Linked DNA regions of Homo sapiens. The protein of the gene in region 4 interacts with the protein of the main gene of each other region in a biochemical or structural test. Each region holds a gene or a part of one and is shown on either strand. Other genes may lie near its edges.

What was found. Proteins that work in one complex are often made in the same cells at the same time.
Region 1: the proteins of PECAM1 (region 4) and CD38 form a complex in vitro, tested with the Homo sapiens proteins (one large-scale study listed by IntAct).
Region 2: of the proteins of PECAM1 (region 4) and LCK, one has a biochemical effect on the other in vitro, tested with the Homo sapiens proteins (one study listed by BioGRID).
Region 3: the proteins of PECAM1 (region 4) and INPP5D form a complex in vitro, tested with the Homo sapiens proteins (one study listed by BioGRID).

Annotation. Positions count from the first base shown.
Region 1 is NC_000004.12:15,776,700-15,781,931, reverse strand, and holds the start of CD38 (ADP-ribosyl cyclase/cyclic ADP-ribose hydrolase 1), read right to left. Parts: upstream 3,605-5,232; 5' UTR 3,518-3,604; coding exon 3,285-3,517; intron 1-3,284. UniProt on the Homo sapiens protein: Synthesizes cyclic ADP-ribose (cADPR), a second messenger for glucose-induced insulin secretion.
Region 2 is NC_000001.11:32,278,474-32,283,068, reverse strand, and holds part of LCK (tyrosine-protein kinase Lck), read right to left. Parts: intron 3,399-4,595; coding exon 3,322-3,398; intron 3,229-3,321; coding exon 3,075-3,228; intron 2,991-3,074; coding exon 2,859-2,990; intron 1-2,858. UniProt on the Homo sapiens protein: Non-receptor tyrosine-protein kinase that plays an essential role in the selection and maturation of developing T-cells in the thymus and in the function of mature T-cells. Plays a key role in T-cell antigen receptor (TCR)-linked signal transduction pathways.
Region 3 is NC_000002.12:233,161,051-233,165,645, reverse strand, and holds part of INPP5D (phosphatidylinositol 3,4,5-trisphosphate 5-phosphatase 1), read right to left. Parts: intron 3,923-4,595; coding exon 3,820-3,922; intron 1,940-3,819; coding exon 1,743-1,939; intron 1,340-1,742; coding exon 1,222-1,339; intron 1-1,221. UniProt on the Homo sapiens protein: Phosphatidylinositol (PtdIns) phosphatase that specifically hydrolyzes the 5-phosphate of phosphatidylinositol-3,4,5-trisphosphate (PtdIns(3,4,5)P3) to produce PtdIns(3,4)P2, thereby negatively regulating the PI3K (phosphoinositide 3-kinase) pathways.
Region 4 is NC_000017.11:64,376,858-64,381,452, forward strand, and holds part of PECAM1 (platelet endothelial cell adhesion molecule precursor), read right to left. Parts: intron 1,261-4,595; coding exon 967-1,260; intron 1-966. UniProt on the Homo sapiens protein: Cell adhesion molecule which is required for leukocyte transendothelial migration (TEM) under most inflammatory conditions.

The sequences.
Region 1 (5,232 bases), on a different chromosome or scaffold from region 4:
GTCAAACCACAGAACCATGGCAGACAATAAATGATTGTTGTTTTAAGTCACTAAATTTTAGGGTGGTTGTTTATTATGCAGCAACTGATGACCAAAACAGAAAGTGATACTTGGAAGTGAGGTCTTGTGTAACAAAACCTTAAAACATGTACGTGATGATTAATTTTAAGTGGCAATTCGCCCAGGCATGGTATCCAGATATTTGGTCAAACACATCTAGTTGTGATGTGAAGGTATTTTTTAGATTTTAAGTCAGGAGACTCGGTGTAAAGCATGTTACCCTTCATAATGTGGTGGGCCTCATCCAATCAGTTGAAGGCCTTAAGAGAAAGACCAAGGTCCCAGAAGTAAAAGAGAATTCTGCCAGAGACTGCCTTTGGACTCCAGCTGCAACATCAACTCTTCCCTGGGTCTCCAGGCTGCTGGCCTGTCCAGCAGATTTGGGGCTTGCCCGACTTCACAATGATATAAGCCAATTTCTTAAAATCTCTTTCTCTCTATTAATGTATTTATATTATGTTATATAAATGTTGTTTCTCTGGAGACCCTTACTACTATACTGTAGCATTAGTACTAGGAATGTGTGACAGGCAGGAGAGGAGAGGTCTAAAGGAGACTGTTAGTGCAGGCAAGATGGACTTGGGGGAAATTGTTAGCAACTAGAAGAAAGGCAGACCCTATTATGTCCTGGTAAAAAGTTTGGTAACACTGTCACCTGTCACAATACAAAGTGCAGAAAATATACCTAATGATCTTATAGGTTTGGTAAGGAGATTTCCAGGCAGAATGTTGAAAGTGCCAACTCACTTCTTTTTTTGGTTTGGTTTGGTTTGGTTTTGAGACGGAGTCTTACTCTCTTGGCCAGGCTGGATCTTGGTTCAGTGCTACCTCCTCCTCCTGGGTTCAAGCGATTCTCCCACCTCAGTCTCCAGAGTAGCTGGGATTACAGGCACGCGCCACAACACCCGGCTAATTTTGTATTTTTAGTAGAGACGGAGTTTCAGCATGTTGGCCAGGCAGGTCTTGTACTCCTGACCTTAAGTGATCCACCTGCCTGGGCCTCCCAAAGTGCTGGGATTACAGGTGTGAGCCACAGTGCCTGGCCCAACTCACTTCTTTTAGCTGTTTCTGATAAGGTGCAGAAAGAAAGAGAGAAAATAATTCTTTATTTTTTTAAAAGCAGAATCAAGAGCAAACATTTCCATGCCAGGATTTGTTGGGTTTGAAAATAAAACTGTCATTGTTAGTCTTTCCAAAGAATATCAAAAAAGAAATAGTCTCAAGGCAATGATCGAGTCCAGAGTGCTGCCAGTAAAACATGTTCACAAGGTCAAGATTTCAGGGATGTGGCTGTAAGACTGTATGTGTGTGTGTGTGTGTGTGTGTGTGTGTGTGTGTGTGTGTGTGTGTGTGAGAGAGAGAATATTATCTAAAATATATAAAAATCTCCCATAAGAAATAAATAAGCAGCTCAATAGAAAGTATCAAGTATCTGGACAGGAAAATCACAGAAAAAAATATAAATGGCAAATAAACATATACAAGATGCTTAGACTCACTGATACTGAGGGAACAATTAGATGCTCTTTTTTCTCTTAAGTAAAAAAGTTGAAAATATTCAGCATTCAAGAGATTGTGGGAAAGCATCCCCTCTGATAGACTGATGATGGGAGAGTAAAATGGCACAACTATTTTGGAGTATATATGGAATACCTGGAATTTGGAAAAATCAAAACTTAAAATATGCATAATTCTCCCTTTTACTCAGCAGTTTCATCACTAGAAATCTATCCTACAGAAATACTCCCATATGTACACACAATGTATGTATGAAGATTTTCATTGCATCATGTTTCTCCCAACTAAGGTGAAAATTTCATGAGTGAGAACTTCGTCATTCACTCTTGTGTCATCAGTAGCTAGATCACTGTCTGGAACATAGTGGGTGCTCAACAGATACTTGTTGGATGAATGAATGGGATTGAAAAATTGGAAACAAGCTAATTTCCTGTCAATAGGAAATGGTTACATCTAGTTTATGAAATACTATGGGCTGTCAAAAGAAATGAGATAGATCTTTATGTACTCACATTGAAAGATCTTCAAGACCAGTGTTACTTTTTTTTTTTTTAATGAGGTTGCTTTCTAACATTACCATTTCATTTTGGATTTCACTTCATACTTTACAATACAGCCTGGAGGAACGCCTCAACTTCTAGTTTCTCTCTCCATTAAGTATCTAATTATGTGTAAATAGAACAACTAACGGGACGCTGGGAAGCCCAGGAGGCAAACATTTTGCAACCGGAACTGTTGAGTGTGCTCGGAGAGGCGAGGGAGGTCTATTTGCTCGTTTCCTCGGATTGCTTAAATGCGGGATTTTGCTATCCCAAAGCACAGAGTGTAAAGTAGCAGCTCCCCCTGCCTGCCTTCCCGGCTTCTTCTGTTTTACAAGCAACGATAATTTCCCGGTGAAAGCGAGGCCTGGGAATCAAATCCAAAAAGTGGTTGTTCCCTTTAGGAGAGGTTAGTAGCTGGAAAGGAGCATGAGAAAACTGGAAGGTCCCATAGACTAATGTGTTTTTTTTCCAAGGTTTGTACAGATTCACCGAGTTGCTGCGCCTTATCATCTAAGTAATGTCTCGGTTTTAGAAGTTGACATTGTTTTGTTAATTACTTCTCTGGTCACATGCATTTCAGGCCGCGCAAAAAGAATCGGAGTGCTGCTTTATATAAATGAATAAAACTAAGTTCCGTGGTTTGGCCCTTCTACACCCTCCTCCCCTACCACAGGCTTTGCAAACCACTTAAGTGTCCTCTGTAACCGTCCGGGGGCACTTTCGGGTCAGAGACAGCGGGCGGAAACCGCAGAAAAAGTTGAAAATGTCAGCGACACCCTGCATCTGCGAGTTCTATTCCGTCCCTGAAGCGGTGAAGCGGGCTGAGCGCGCCGAGGGTGGGCTGCAGCCCGGCGAGGGGCTGGGCTCAGGGCACCTTGCCCAGAAGGCGGGCATCGGTGCCAAGTGTTCACCGGCTACGCAGCAGAGCCACCGAGCAGCGCCCCCCCCCGCCTCCCGCGGGCACGCTCGGTGCCAAGGCCAGCTGCTCCTGAAAGCGGCCCGCGGAGCCCCGAGCCCGGGACTCCCTACTCAGCACCACCCGGCGGGCTCTCGGCTGACCCGCCACGGAAGATGCCCGGTTCCGGGCGATCCGGGCGGCTTCCCTGCGCGCGGGGCCCTGCTGTCCCCGCAGTGCCCACCGGTGCGCCTTAGTCGCCAACCCACCTCATCTCAGGATGAATTTCAGTGTACTTGACGCATCGCGCCAGGACGGTCTCGGGAAAGCGCTTGGTGGTGCCCGGACCGCTCCACTGCTGGCGCCACCTCGGGACGACCACCGCGAGCACCACGACGAGGATCAGGACCAGGATACTGACGCCAAGACAGAGTTGGGCTCTCCTAGAGAGCCGGCAGCAGGGTTTGTCCCCGGACACCGGGCTGAACTCGCAGTTGGCCATAGGGCTCCAGGCGGGGTTGGCTGGGCGAAGATGAGGCCGGCAGGAGGCTAGGCAGCAAGAGAGAGGCTGGCTGGGTTCTGAAACTGCACCTCCCCTTCTGTTTCACTTGCCTTTTCTCTGTTTCCCTTCCCACCCCCAACCCCTTGCCTCAGAGTTCCGTGGCTGGTTACACCAATAAGAGTTTAAAAGACCAACAACTATAGGCTCCTGTGCAGTGACCCACCCACTCCACCTCCAGGGAGAAACAGCCACCTTAATCCTCTGCAGGTGTCCTAAGGGGGCAGACAGTACATCCTTATACTCCCTCCGCTAACTCCCTTCATCAACCGGGCACTTTACACCTGAGCCACATTTGCTTCCTGGAAAGCATGAGGGTGGGCTGCCTGCTTCTATACGTGTGTGCACACAATGCCCTCTGCCTGGAAAAGGATGTCCTACCTCTCTTTCTTAACTCTGACAAATGCCTGGTCAACCACCTTTAAAGACTCAACTTAAGTCTGACTCCTTCTCTCAAGAGGCATCAGTGGCTAAGCTCTGGGTTCAAATTTAGTTCTTGCTGGATGACATGGGGCAAGTTACTTAACCTCTCTGTACTTCAGATGTAAAGCCGGGATAGTAGCAGTACCTACTTCATGGGATTGTTACGAGGATTAAGTGAGTTAATATCTACAACGTGTTTAGCACAATACCTGGCACATGGTAATCACCCAGTAAATGTAAGTTGTTACTACCAGCTCTAGGAGCTGCTCAGAGATGCAATTTTATAGTCCATGGAATGTGTTTGAAGCAGGGTCTGGCACACAGTAATAATACTGCACTCTATGCGGGAGTTTAATAAATAATAAAGTGGCTTTTCTTGCCTCTTCTTTATTAAGAGAACATCTGTGACATTCAAGCAGAGACCTAAGTAATGTGAGCGATCAAGTCACCCAACTCCCTTGGGGCAAACATTTCCCAAGCAGAGGAAATGGCAGGTGCAAAGACTCTGAGGCAGAAAAGCTCTTGGCCTGTTCCAGAGCAGCAAGGAGGCCAATTGTAGTTAGGCTAGAGGGTTGAGGGAAACAGAACAGAAGTTCGGAAAGTAGCAGGAGACCAGATCACCCATAGCTCTGTAAGACAGGATGACTTTTTGGACTGTGTGTTTTATTTATTTTTTATCTTTTTTATTTTGTTTTAAGTTCTGGGATACATGTACAGGACGTGCAGAGTTGTTACATAGGTAAATGTGTGCCATGGTGGTTTGCTGCACCTATCAATCCATTGCTTAGGTATTAAGCCCCTCATGTTTTAGCTATTCTTTCTGATGCTCTCCCTCCCTCCACTCTCCCCAACAGGCCCCAGTGTGTGTTGTTCCCCTCCCTGTGTTCATTGTTCAGCTCCCACTTATAAGTGAGAACATGCAGTGCTTGGTTTTCTGTTCCTGTGTTAGTTTGCTGAGGATAATGGCTTCCAGCTCCATCCATGTCCCTGCAAAGGACATGATCTCGTTCCTTTTTGTGGCTGCACAGTATTCCCTGGTGTATATGTACCACATTGTCTTTATCCAGTCTGTCATTGATGGGCATTTGGGTTGATTCCATGTCATTGCTATTGTGAATAGTGCTACAATGAACATATGCATGCATGTATCTTTATAACAGAATGATTTATATTCCTTTGGGTATATACCCAGTAATGAGATTGCTGGGTCAAATGGTATTTCTGGTTCTAGATCT
Region 2 (4,595 bases), on a different chromosome or scaffold from region 4:
TCCGCTCATCTCAGCCTCCCAAAGTGCTGGGTTGCAGGCGTGACCCACCACGCCTGGCTGGGACTCTCACATTTTAAAACTGGGGCATAGGAGGACATAGGCCACGGAACTAAACACCCATGGCCAGAGTTAAGGGTGCAAGCCCACAGGCTAAATCCAGCCTGAGTATAGCCCACAGATCCACTTTGGATTGGCCCTAGAGTGGTTTTATTTATTTATTCATTTAATTAATTTATTTATTTAATTTATTTATATTTATTTTTGAGATGGACTCTCACTCTGTCACCCAGGCTGGAGTGCAACAGCGTGATCATGGCTCACTGCAACTTCCGCCTCCAGGGTTCAAGTGATTCTCTTGCCCCAGCCTCTTGAGTGGCTGGGACTACCAGTGCCCAACACCACGCCTGGCTAATATTTTTGTATTTTTAGTAGAGGCAGGGTTTCACCATGTTGGCCAGGCTGGTCTCAAACTCCTCACCTTGTGATCCACCCACCTCAGCTTCCCAAAGTGCTGGGATTACAGGTGTGAGTCACCGTGCCCAGCCCCTAGAGTGCTTTTAAACAATTTGAATCAATCGCCAATAAATGGAAATGAACAGATTTTCCTAAAACTCCAAGTTTGGGCTTCTCTTAAAAAAACAAAAGATCTGTTTTTTTGGGTCCCCCACGCCTTAATTGCAGCCATCTGCTGGAGCAGCTGCAAGTTTACCAAGGTCCCCATTTCTCCCCATTGTCTCCCTGACCCTAATGCTATATGTCAGTTGCCATTTATCATCATGCTTTCACTGCCTATTTTCTTCTAATAGATACATTCCCTATGGGTTTGCCTCTGTGGGAACCGGGAAGGAGCAGTGAGGACCCCTGGCAGGATAACTGGAGAATATTTCTGTATTTCCAGCTCCAGCACTACCCCTGGACGCTGGTTTGGGGCAAGCCCAGGGCAGGGAAGCCCCTCAGCTTTTCACCTGTTTCCAAGGTGGTTGTTTTTGTTTTTGTTTTGAAACAGAGTCTCACTTTGTCACCCAGGCTGGAGTGCGGTGGCATGATCTCAGCTCACTGCAACCTCTGCCTCCTGGGTTCAAGCAATTCTCCTGCCTCAGCCTCCTGAGTATCTAGGGTTACAGGCGCGTGCCACCATGCCCAGATAATTTTTATATATATTTTTTTTAGTAGAGACGGGGTTTCACCATGTTGGTCAGGCTGGTCTCGAACACCTGACCTTGTGATCCACCCGCCTCGGCCTCCCAAAGTGCTGGTATTACAGGTGTGAGCCACTGCATCCGGCCTTCCAAGGTGTCTTTACCTTCCTTGGAGCAAAGGTCTGTTCACCTTGCTCTGGGGATATGGGAAGCTTCTACAAATCTAGCCACTGTGCCGCATGACCCCCCTACTCCTGTCTTTATGCTCCATTTCCTTTCCCCAGAGTTTCTTAGCAAGTTCCTTTCAAAAATTCCATCCCTGTCTTGGCTGAATTCAGGGGTAAAGGGCTTTGTCCAGGAGATGGTGGGAGGAGTCAGTGTATACTGACAACCTACTATGAGTCAGGCTCTTTCACAAATGGTCTCTCATTTTTTCTTTTTTCTTTTTCTTTTTCTTTTTTTTTTTTTTTGAGACAAATTCTCTCTCTGTTGCTCAGGCTGGAGTGCAATAGAACAATCATGGCTCACTGCACCCTCAACCTCCTGGGCTCAAATGATCCTCCCACCTCAGCCTCCCAAATAGCTGAAACTACGGGTGTGTGCCACCATGCCCAGCTAATTTTTAAATGTTTTTTTTGTTTGTTTGTTTTTTTTTTTTTGTAGAGATGGAGTCTCTCTTTTTCTTGTTTTGAGACAGGGTCTTGGTCTATTGCCCTAGGCTGGAGTGTTATGGCATGGTCTTGGCTCACTGCAACCTCTGCCTCCCTGGCTCAGGTGATCCTCCCACCTCAGCCTTCTGAGTAGCTGGGACTAGAGGCACATGCCACCAAACCTGGCTAACTTTTGTTTTTGTAGAGATGGGGTTTCGACCAGTTTCCCAGGCTGGTCTCGAACTCCTGGGCTCAAGCAGTCCTCCCACCTTGGTCTCCCAAAGTTCTGAGATTATAGGCATAAGCCACTGTACCTGGCCTAGTCTCTTATTTTTAGTATCAGGAAACTGAGGCTTAGAGAAGTGAAGTGACTAGCTTCACTAGTTACAGTAATGATCTGAACAAAGCCAAACAGAAAGTTAGCAACAGTGGCAGATCTGCTGATAAAAGGTAGGCCTCTTGTTCCTGAGCTAGATCTTCTTCTACCATACCAGGCTGCCTGGGCCAGAACTAAAGAAAAGAGCTGGGGCCGGGTGTGGTGGCTCACGCCTGTAATCCCAACACTGGGAGGCCGAGGCAGGCCAATCACGAGGTCAGGAGATTGAGGCCATCCTGGCTAACATGGTGAAACCCTGTCTCTACTAAAAATACAAAAAATTAGCTGCGCATGGTGGCACGTACCTGTAATCCTAGCTATTTGGGAGGCTGAGGCAGGAGAATCACTTGAACCCAGGAGGCAGAGGTTGCAGTGATCCAAGATGGCGCCACTGCACCCCAGCCTGGGAGACAGAGCAAGACTCCGTCTCAAAAAAAAAAAAAAAAAAAAAAAAAAAAAAGAAAAAGAAAAAAAGAGAAAAAGAAAAGAGCTGGGGTTATTAAAGAGAGATACGGAGATGGAAGCCAGCCCTGGGAGATGTGGCATCTGCCTGGGGACGTTGGACTCATACCCCTGAGAAGATAGAGGAGATGCAGCTACAAAGTTTCAGATTCTGAGACTGGAAAGAATTGAATGGGAAGACATGGACTTGCCCTTCCCATCACCCTTTCAGTTCCTGCCCTTGGCTCTAACCTGGGTAAGGGATGCGGCCGTGGGTGACAATTTCCGTCAGCAGGATCCCAAAAGACCACACATCTGACTTGATGGTGAATGTCCCGTAGTTAATGGCTTCTGGCGCTGTCCACTTAATGGGAAACTTGGCCCCTAAGGAGGAGGCAGAGTGAGGTCACCTGGGTCTGCTTGGCCAGACCCTGCAGGGCCCAGACCACCCTTAAATCTCACACGTACCCTCCCTGGCTGTGTACTCGTTGTCCTCAATGAGGCGTGCTAGGCCAAAGTCTGCAATCTTGCAGCTCAGGGTGTCAGACACCAGAATGTTGGCAGCCCGAAGGTCACGATGAATATAATTCCGCTCTTCAATGAATGCCATGCCTTCTGCAATCTGCAGGCCAAACACAGATCAGCGGTCCTGAGCCAGATGTCTTCACGTCACTGGTCTGTTCCCTTGCCCAGCCCCCCTCCCCAGTCTCCTTACTTGGGCTGCCATGTCCAGGAGTTTGTTGATGGTCAACTTGATGCCTGAAGGGGTCTTGAGAAAATCCACTAGACTCCCTGTGGGCAGAAGCAAGAGTTGCTGGCCCAAGTTGCCCCAGGGGGAGGCCCCCAGACCTTTCTCCTCCAACTGGGAGTCTAGAAGTGTGTCTGACATGTGAAAAGGAAGATTGAAGAGTGAGAATGGAGGAGTGTGTGTTCAGGGTAAGGATGCCCAGGATATGTAAAGGTTTTTTTGCAGAGGGGCTAGGGTAGAGCATGCTGGGAGGGATCTGTAGGTTTTTCATCACCAATAAGGTAGAACCTAGAATCCTCAACTAGTATCCTAAGCTTGGCATGGTCCACACTGGTAGCTTCTTCTCTTTCCCCCACTCTGCCTTTGACTTCAAACAGTTTAGCAATTTTGAGATCCTGCACTCAGACCACTAGGCTCTCACCCCAAAGCCTCTTTGTTTCATCTCTGCCTGCTAAAAAAAATTCTACTTTTCTTTCGTGGCCCTGCTAGACTGCCCCACTAGGAAGCCTCTCTAGATCCTACCAGGCATAATAAACTGGATCATCATCTACACTCCCATGGGCATGCTGGAACTTTCCCATGGCACAAACTCTGGTTTCCCCAGTAGCTGTAACTAAAATCAGGTTTCCCTGACAACAGGAACCTTGTTTCATCCATCCATGTTCCTGGTGCCCAGCCGAGAGTAAGAAACAATAACTATGTGCTGAATATATTGGATGGAATAAGAAAGAGGGGGTCTGGGGGTCTGAGGGACCACCTCTCTAATAGTGGAGGGCAGCTGGACATGGATGGGAGTTGCTAGGATGCAGTGAGTGACCAATGGCCCTTCCCAAGAGATTAAAACCCTGTAAAAGGATGACAGCAACCTGAGTGTCCCCACTTTGAGTGCTGAACTAGTTACCAAAGACAAAGACCTCACCTACACACAGCAAATACATAGACATAGATATACTGCCATTCTTCCATTGTATCCATGGCAGATGTTACTAATCATTCCTGGCACTCACTTCCAATGAACCTCAGAATCCTTCTCCAGCACTACAAGCAACTACCAATCAAAGTCGATACACATGATAGGCTGGGCATGGTGGCTCACATCTGTAATCCCAGCACTTTGGGAGGCCAAGGCGGGAGGATCACCTGAGGACAGGAGATCGAGACCAGCCTAGCCAACAAGGCGAAAACCTGTCTCTACTAAAAATACAAAAATTAGCCAGGCATGGTGGCACATGCTTGTAGTC
Region 3 (4,595 bases), on a different chromosome or scaffold from region 4:
TCACACACTCATAGATACGGGGTGGTACACTCACACACAGATGCACATAAACACACACTCACAAACACACATGCATGGACACACACACATAGACACTCACACACTCATAGATATGGAGTGGTACACACACACGGACTCACATACATAGACTCACATAAATACACTCACAAACACATGCATGGACACACACACACTCATAGATACGGGGTGGTACACTCACACACGGACTCACATATGTAGACTCACATAAACACACACAAACACACATGCATGGACTCACACATACAGACACTCACACACATAGATATGGGTGGTACACTCATACACGGACTCACATACATAGACTCACATAGACACACTCAAACACATGCATAGATTCACACACATATAGACACACACTCATAGATATGGGGTGGTACGCTCACACATTGACTCACATAAACATGCTCACAAACACACATCCATAAACTCTCACACACCTACACAGGCTCACACACTCACATGCACGCTGTCACTCACACAAACTCACATACACAGACCTACTCACACACACATCCTACACAAACACACAGGCTTGCACTCCTACACTTATGAAGACTTCTTGCCCTTGTTACTGCTCTCTGAAGCCAGCAACTCTCCACTGACACCAGCGTTTCCAGATCCAACCTGGTGCACAGGGACCGAGGGCAGGGGCCAGCCACCTCCCGCCTGTGCTTGTAAGGAAGGTCTCACTGGTAACACAGTCACTCCCATTCGCTTTCTGGGTTGCCTATGGCTGCTTTCCCACCAGAAAGGCAGAGAGGAATAGTGTTGAGTGGCCTGCAAAGCCTGAAATATTTACTGTCAGGCCCTTCCCTTTCCTGCAAAAGTTGGCCAATGCCTCTTCTAGGTTCTTGCTTCTTAAAATGGGTCCCACGGGCCGACCAGCAGCGCTCAAGTCGCCTGGGAACCTGTCAGAAACTTGGAACCCTGAGCTCCACCCAAGATCTACTGGGTCGGAACCTGCATTTTAGCTAGATCCCTGGGACTGCTGGTGTAGACCCTGAGTGAGTTTCAGCCAGGGAGACCAATCACCCCTATTTGCTGAGGACTGAGCCAGGATCTGAGGATGTGAGGCTCTCTGTTTTTAACCCGGGGAACTACTGGTGGGATCAGGATGATGTGGTCGCGAGAGTTGAGGCAGAGGGTGTGGGAGGAACACAGGGTCCCCGCCCTGCTCACCCAGTGTGTTTGCAATGCCTGTCTTCACGTTGTCAGTACAGATGTGGCTGATCCGGTTCTCGTGCTCAGGCTTGGCCAGCACCACGATGCGGATGTTCCAGAGCGTGTGGATGGCGACCTGGTGGGAGGACAACGTTGCAATACTCGGCCCAAGTGTAGGGTGTGAACCAGGGCACAGTGATTCACACCCAGCCCCAGCCGCAGCCCCTGGGTATGGGGTATCCTGTCTGTAATCCCAACCCTTCGGGGGACTCCCAGCGATGCTTGATAGGCGAGACAAAACATCCTAAAGATGAGAACCGGGGCTGACCAAGGGTGGGAAGATAGAGGACTCAGTGGTTTTCAGCAATACCCCACAGATCCCATTTATTTCTGAATACAGACGCATCTCTCAGTGGGGGCCTCCAGACATCCTTGAAAACTGAGAGCTGATAGGCTGAGCCCACCCTTGCCTCTGAGACAGCCCAGCCGAGCAAAGATTCTATCCCGGAAGCCCACCCAGCGTGCAGCCAGCTGCTCACTGTTTTAAAAGTCACACTGGTGATTTCTTGCAGGGAGTGTTTGAGGATCTCCAGCCACTCCTTCTCACTCAGGGGGTCCTCTTGGGTGCCGATCACGTAAATGTCATGGGGGATGTAGTCCGCAGAGTCGTCCCGCGTCTTTCCCTGCCCCTTGGAGAGAAACCAGGACGTGATCTTCTTGGGAGGGGGGGCGTTACCTTCAACAGCAAAACCCAACACCAAGTGAGTCAAAGGCACATCGAGTCAAAGCATTAGGAGAATTCAAAACAGAGGGCGGGAGTGTGAGGGAGGTCACGTCATTACACAAGACCATCCAGGCAGCCCAAAGAAATGCCTGCAATGGAGGCCTGGGCGCCAACCTCACCCAGGATGTCGGTTAGGGCTAGAGCTCAGTTAAGCCTCTTTTTAAACGTAATGTCAAGTTTCAAGGTATAGAAACACCAGAAGATTCCCTGATGTCAGACACTGTCCTGCACTTTGAGGCTACGATAATTGAGACACAGTCCTGTCCCTCAAGGAACTCACATCCTATTCTCAAGACAGCCAAGGGAACTGACAAGTTTTAGATGGCGGGTTCTAACCCATTGTTGGGAGACAACAAAGTCTCCCTTGCAAGACAGATCCCAGCCCAGAGCGGAGGGATGCCTGGGTGTGAGCCAGAGAAACGGGAGAGTGTGGAAACTCCTCCGCATTCCCATTTCAAAACTGAGTTGAAGAAGCTCAATCAAGAAATTTTGAACGGTTCTCCCTACAATGCCCTTGAAGGATGAGCAAACTTTGTTCCTCAAAGAGATGAGCTTCTTGCCTTACAAGTGCAAAGAAGCCAAGCATTGGAGTAAATGGACTGTGGCTAAATTCTGCTCCCCCAAGAGGCTCAAAGTGGGTGCCCGAACCCCCGGGCTGGTGGGTCCCCGGCCCTCCTGCGGCATGGCCTCAGCTGGCTCCTTCCATACTCTTCTGTGGGAAGGGCACCCCTGCCCTTGTGTCATGGACATCCCTGACCATGTCCAGAGGGAGGAGATCAGGCAGACTATTGTCTCTTATTAGAAACACTGAAAGGGACCGAAGGGGACAAGTGACCCCCTGGGGCACTGGCCCGGGCTCTACTCCACGGCTGCTGTGGCCCTGGGACACGAGTGACAAGCTGTCACTTCACTTCCAGGAGGCCCCTGCCAGCCACTGCTCACCCTCTTCCTCCCAGACTCCTCTCAGGACAAGGGTAGGGGACACACGACACCCAGTGAAATTCCAATTTCAGATAAACTGGTAGTTTTTAGAATAAGTTTATCTGGATGTCTTCTATCTAATTTATTTCTACCTGAACACTTACACTAAAAAATTATTTAGTATTATTTATATTTAGTAGAGTGCATGTGTTTAGTAAATACACAATATATATGTTTAATACAAAATATATTTAGCATATATTTAGTATATTATTAGCTGTATGCTTAAACTAATATTACTTAGTATAATTCATATTTAATATAATAATTACACTTATTTAGCATATGTATATATACTATATATTCAGCATAATGTCTATGAGCATATATATTTAGTATTTATTTGTTTGTAGCTAAACATATACTAAAAAAAATTGTTTCTATGAAGTTAAAATTTAACTGGGCATCCTTTGTCTACGTACCTATCTCTCTGTCTCTCTCTGTCTCTCTCCTGATAAATCTGGCAACCCTACTCAGGGTGGACTTCTTTCTCTCAGGCCTGGGGCCCCTTGGTGAGCTGCCTAGGGCTGGCAGGGTTCCCATGAGCCCCTTCACCTAGATATTCAGACTCTTTCCCTAAAACTTTCCAATTTAGACATACAGAGTAACCCACGCCAGCTGCTCTTGGGGTACGATAGTCCCAAAGCTCGTTTTTCTTACCCATCATCTCAGGAAAAGGGTGGAATTCCTCAGGAAGGAGGTTGTGCGGGTGGGCTGGGGCTTAGGGGCAGGGCCCTGGGGCAGGAAGGAAGGGGACATGGATGTCGTCACTCCACCCCACCTTGAGGATGCCTGAGTCAGGAAAGCAGAAGCAGAGGGGGTGACTGCAGGGAGGGGGCGCGCGGACCCACCCATGTTCCAGGTGCCGATGAAGATGGTGATCATGTCGGGCTCCGGCTGCTCTGAGTGCTTGTTCTTCATCTGCTGCAGGAGCTGGCAGAAGCCTTCTCTCTTCTAGGGATGGAAGGGCAGACAGACTTAGAAAGGCCTCTGCCTCCCTGCACATTACACTTTGCAAAGGACTTGGTCAGCTTCAAGAAAACTGAGAGGAGCGTAAATCAGTGTGAACTTCCAGGACAGCAACCTGGAAACATGTGTCCAAAGTCATAAGCGAGTGGCTTCTGGCCTAGACACTCCCCTGCAAAGGTGCGACTTTAACAAAGTGATCAGGAGCTGCGCAGAAGTCCAACCCTGTCACGGCTCTGCAGCACAGGCCTCAGCACAGAAAAAAATCAGAAGCAACCTTACTGTCCAGCCTTAGGAGATTCATTAATAATGTATCAGAGGGCCAGGTGTGGTGGCTCATGCCTGTAATCCCAGCACTTTGGGAGGCCGAGGTGGGTGGATCACCTGAGGTCAGGAGTTCGAGACCAGCCTGACCAACATGGTGAAACTCCTGTCTCTACTAAAAATACAAAATTAGCCAAGCGTGGTGGTGCTTGCCTGTAATGCCAGCTACTCGGGAGGCTGAGGCAGAAGAATTGCTTGAACCCAGGAGGTGGAGGTTGCAGTGAGCCAGGATCGCATCATTGCACTCCAGCCTGGGTAACAGAGCTAGAGTCTGTCTCAAAAAAAAAAAGTATTCTAGACCATCCATAAACTAGAATATCACAGTGTTTAACAAGTG
Region 4 (4,595 bases):
CCCAGTTGCTTGGGAGGCTGAGACAGGAGAATCGCTTGAACCCAGGAGACAGAGGTTGCAGTGAGCCAAGGTCGCGCCATTGCTCTTTAGCCTGGGTGACAGAGGAAGACTCTGTCTCAAAATAAATAAATACATTTCTATTTATTAGGAACTCACTAGGTGCTGGAAATTTTGCTAAGCACTCTACCCACATGACACTTTTAACCCTCTCAATAATTGCCTGAAATGGGTATCGTTGTTATCTTCCTTTTACTGGTGAGGATTTTGAAGTTTAGAGCTGTTAAGGGACTTGCCCAGATTGAAACCCAGGCAGAGTGACTGCAGAACGAGGTGTCTTAACACACCGCTGTGGCCTTTATACACACAAATACCATTGAATGTAGAGAGAGCATCAGAGCTGTACTGACTGGCACCCTGGGGTAGACCCATTTTGTTTTGGAAAGAGAAGACATCATTGAGTTGAGTCTTGAAGAAGAAATTTTAATTTATGAGACGAGATGAAGAAGCATTTTGGGAGGCCAAGGCAGGTGGATCACTTGAGGTCAGGAGTTCGAGACCAGCCTGACCAACACAGTGAAACCCCATCTCTACTAAAAATACAAAATTAGCCAGGTGTGGTGGCACACACCTGTAATCCCAATTACTTGGGAGGCTGAGGCAGGAGAATCGCTTGAACCTGGGAGGCAGAGGTTGCAGTGAGCCGAGATCACACCACTGCACTCCAGACTGGGTGACAGAGTGAGACTCCATCAAAGAAAGAAAGGAAGGAAGGAAGGAAGGAAGGGCCTGGCCTATTGGGAATATGTCTAGTGCTTACGTATTCAGGTAAGGAAAATGCCAGGCAGATGAATGAGAGGGTGATGGGTGGAGAGTTAAGTCCAGTGTCACTATTCATTCACAGCTGTTATTCACGCCACTGTGTGCTATGCTCCATCTGCTTGCCTGTGCTCAGTTCCAAGGACTCACCTTCCACCAACACCTGGTACTCTGCAGTGGTTTTCTCTTTGTTGTTCACAATCACAGTACATTTATATGTCCCTGAGTCATAGATCCGGACTTCAGGAATAAAATAACTCTCTGTGCTCTTCATGGAGGAGATGTTGTAAAACAGCACGTCATCCTTATAGAACAGCATCTGGTGCTGAGGCTTGACGTGAGAGGTGGTGCTGACATCCGCGAAGCACTGCAGGGTCAGGTTCTTCCCATTTTGCACCGTCCAGTCCGGCAGGCTCTTCATGTCAACACTGTTGATTGTGAAAGCTAAATGCAAAGGGAAGGAAGGCAGACATACCTGTTATCTCAGAAACAACATCATCCCGGTGACCTTCACCACATCAGATGTGGTCTTATCCCATCCTATGCAGTATTGAGTCCAGGGGTTCTACGTGCCTACAGGGCCAGGCTGATAGTAACTGTGCACAGTGGCTCAAGCAGGAGGCAGTTGGTACTAAGCTGCAACTTTTCCCACCAAGGCAAAGGAACAGAGTGTGATAAAGATGTAGAGCTAGGTATGGTGGCTCACGCCTATAATCCCAGCACTTTGGGAGACCAAGGTGGGTGGATCACCTGAGGTCAGCAGTTAGAGACTGGCCTGGCCAACATGGTGAAACCCCCTCTCTACTAAAAATACAAAAATTAGCCAGGTTTGGTGGTGCAGGCCTGTAATCCCAGCTACTTGAGAGGCTGAGGCACAAGAATCACTTGAACCTGGGAGGCGGGGGTTGCAGTGAGGTGAGATCTCACCACTGCACTCCAGCCTGGGCGACAGAGTGAGACTGTCTCAAAAGACAAAAAAAAAAAAAGATATAGGCATTCTGTGAGCTGCCACATCTTGGCCCCTGGAGGGAGTACAGGATTCAAGCAGTCAAGTGTTCAAGTCCTGGCTCATCATTTACTGTGTGACCCTGGGCAGCTAGACTCTCTGAGCTCAGTTTCCTTACCTGTAGGATGGAGTAATCATATCTCATTAGGTCTTTGCAGGAAATGTACAGGAGAACAGCCAGAACGTCTCCTGTACAGTGCCCGATATACATTAAGTGCTTAATAAATGACTGCTACCTCCATTCCGAAACCAGATGGTCGTGCCCAGGCCCTCCTTCTCCACCCAGGCCTTACCGAATTAGCACAGTCCCAGCTGGCATTTTCTATCTGATGGGCTCTGAGGTTTCACCAGATGGTGAGGACTTGAAACCAGTTTTTAGCCTGCTACTTGCGTTTTCAGCCTCACCTGCTACCAAGAAGCAAAGACTACAGATTCCCCTCTGCCAACGGCAGGAATCTCTGGTCAAGCCTCAAAACAGCCACAATGCTCAATCAGCTATCCAATCTCTGCTAGGAACTAGGCTGTGGGTCAACTGGCCAATTGTGTCATTTCTGGCAAGTCCCCAGAACAGAATTGGCTTATATCCAGTAACCATAGGCTGTCAATAGAATTCAGCTAACTACAGATCACATATTGAGGCTCATTCACAGTAGCAGGCTGACGGAAGGGTGGATTGCTTAAAATTGGGTGCTCTCTAGCTATTGCTGTGTTTTTGTCAGTTGGTTGGTTGTGGGCAACTGCCCTGAAAATTTTCCAGGCTAGAAGATCCTGAACCATGCCCATGGGTCAGGACTTGTATCCAAACTTCAGAGCAGACCAGGGTGAACTGCTTTTTGGAGATCCTCTTGGCAATGCCTGTAGGTGCTTCTGCAGCCCACTTGTGGTCTTAGTTTTACCCCTTGACATATCTCAAAGCACTCACTAGCTTCCCTGTGGTTGTCTTTTCCAAGCACATGAATCTGGGTTTAATCAGCACCATAAAATATTCACTCTCCAAATTCCTGTCAGAAAACAACTTCAAACATCTCATGTTCTATACATGGCTAAAAAAAATATGGATGAAGCTAGGTGCAGTGGCTCACACCTGTAATCCCAGAATTTTGGGAGGCCGAGGCAGGAGGATCGCTTGAGCCCAGAAGTTCGAGACCAGCCTGGGCAACATGGCAAAACCCTGACTCTACAAAAATACAAAAGAATCAGCTGGGCATGATGGCATGTGTCTGTAGTCCCAGCTACTCAGGAGGCTGAGGTGGGAGGATCACCTGAGCCTGGGAGGTCGAGGCTGAAGTGAGCCATGATCATGCCAGTGCACTCCAGCCTAGGTGACAGAGTGAGATCCTGTCTCAAAAAAAAAAAAAAGAAAGAAAAGAGGCCAGGCGCAGTGGCTCACGGCTGTAATCCCAGCACTTTGAGAGGCCAAGGTGGGTGAATCACCTGAGGTCAGGAGTTTAAGACCAGCCTGACCAACATGGTGAAACCCTGTCTCTACTAAAAATACAAAATTAGCCGGGTGTGGTACATGCCTGTAATCCCAGCTACTTAGTAGGCTGAGGCAGGAGAATCGCTTGAGCCCGGGATGCAGAGGTTGCAGTGAGCTGAGATCGCGCCATTGCACTCCAGCCTGGGCAACAAGAGCGAAACTCCATCTAAAAAAAATTAAATAAGTATAAAAAAGAGAAAAAGTAATTGATCTGTAGGGGATTTGGAAAAAAATGTACTGAAAGTCCATGACCATAAAACCAGGTGTTTTTCCCAAATCCCTACACGTCCCCCCAGAAATTTCTACCATGCCCATTCTCAAGGAAGCTACCTATCCAGCATTTGGACCTGGGATTGAAAGTGACTATGTCTGGTATGCTTTCTTAGCCCCCCATCTATCTCCATGAAGTATGAATAATGCAATCATGGAATTTTTTAAAATTTTTGAGTGAATGGAGCAGTCCAATGTTTAAAACTCTCAAAGACAGATGACATGATATGTAAAAACCTCAAAGAGTCTGCAGACAAATTATTAGAAATAAATGTGAGTTTAGAAAGGTGGCTGGATAAGGCCAGGAATGGCAGCTCACACCTGTAATCCCAGCACTGTGGGAGGCCAGGAGTTCGAGATCAGCCTGGCTAACATGGTGAAACCCCGTCTCTACCAAAAATACAAAAATTAGCCAGGCATTGTGGCATGCACCTGTAATCCCAGCTACTTGGGAGGCTGAGGCAGGGGAATCACTTGAACCTGGGAGGCACAGGTTGCAGTAAGTTGAGATCACAACACTGCACTGGGCGACAGAATAAGACTCTGTCTGCAAAAACACAAACAAACAAACGAAAAAGAAAGGTGGCTGGATATAAGATTAATATTTTACAAGTCAGCATAGTGGTCATCTCTGGAGGGAGGGGCTATGGGGTAGGGAGAAGCACAGATGCAAGCTATTAAATGGTCTTTTGGGATGTTGGTCTGGGATGTTGATGAGATATTGTCCCTAATTTCACAAAGTGTTCCAACAGCACCAGGAAACACTGTGTTTATGCTGAACAACTGATTCATTTCTATCTTGTGGATTCTGAGAATGTTCTAATGGACCTTGTTCCTCTTTTTGCTTTGATTGTTAACACACAGCAAAAATTTCACCTCTGCTTCTAGCAATCTTTGGGATGCGTTTGTGCTAAATGGGCCATAGCTTTATTTCCCTGCCTTTATTTTTCTCTCATCCTGATTTCCTCATTAATTGTATCTCATTGAACAATACATAATTTTTATAAGTGGTCCCAAGTCATT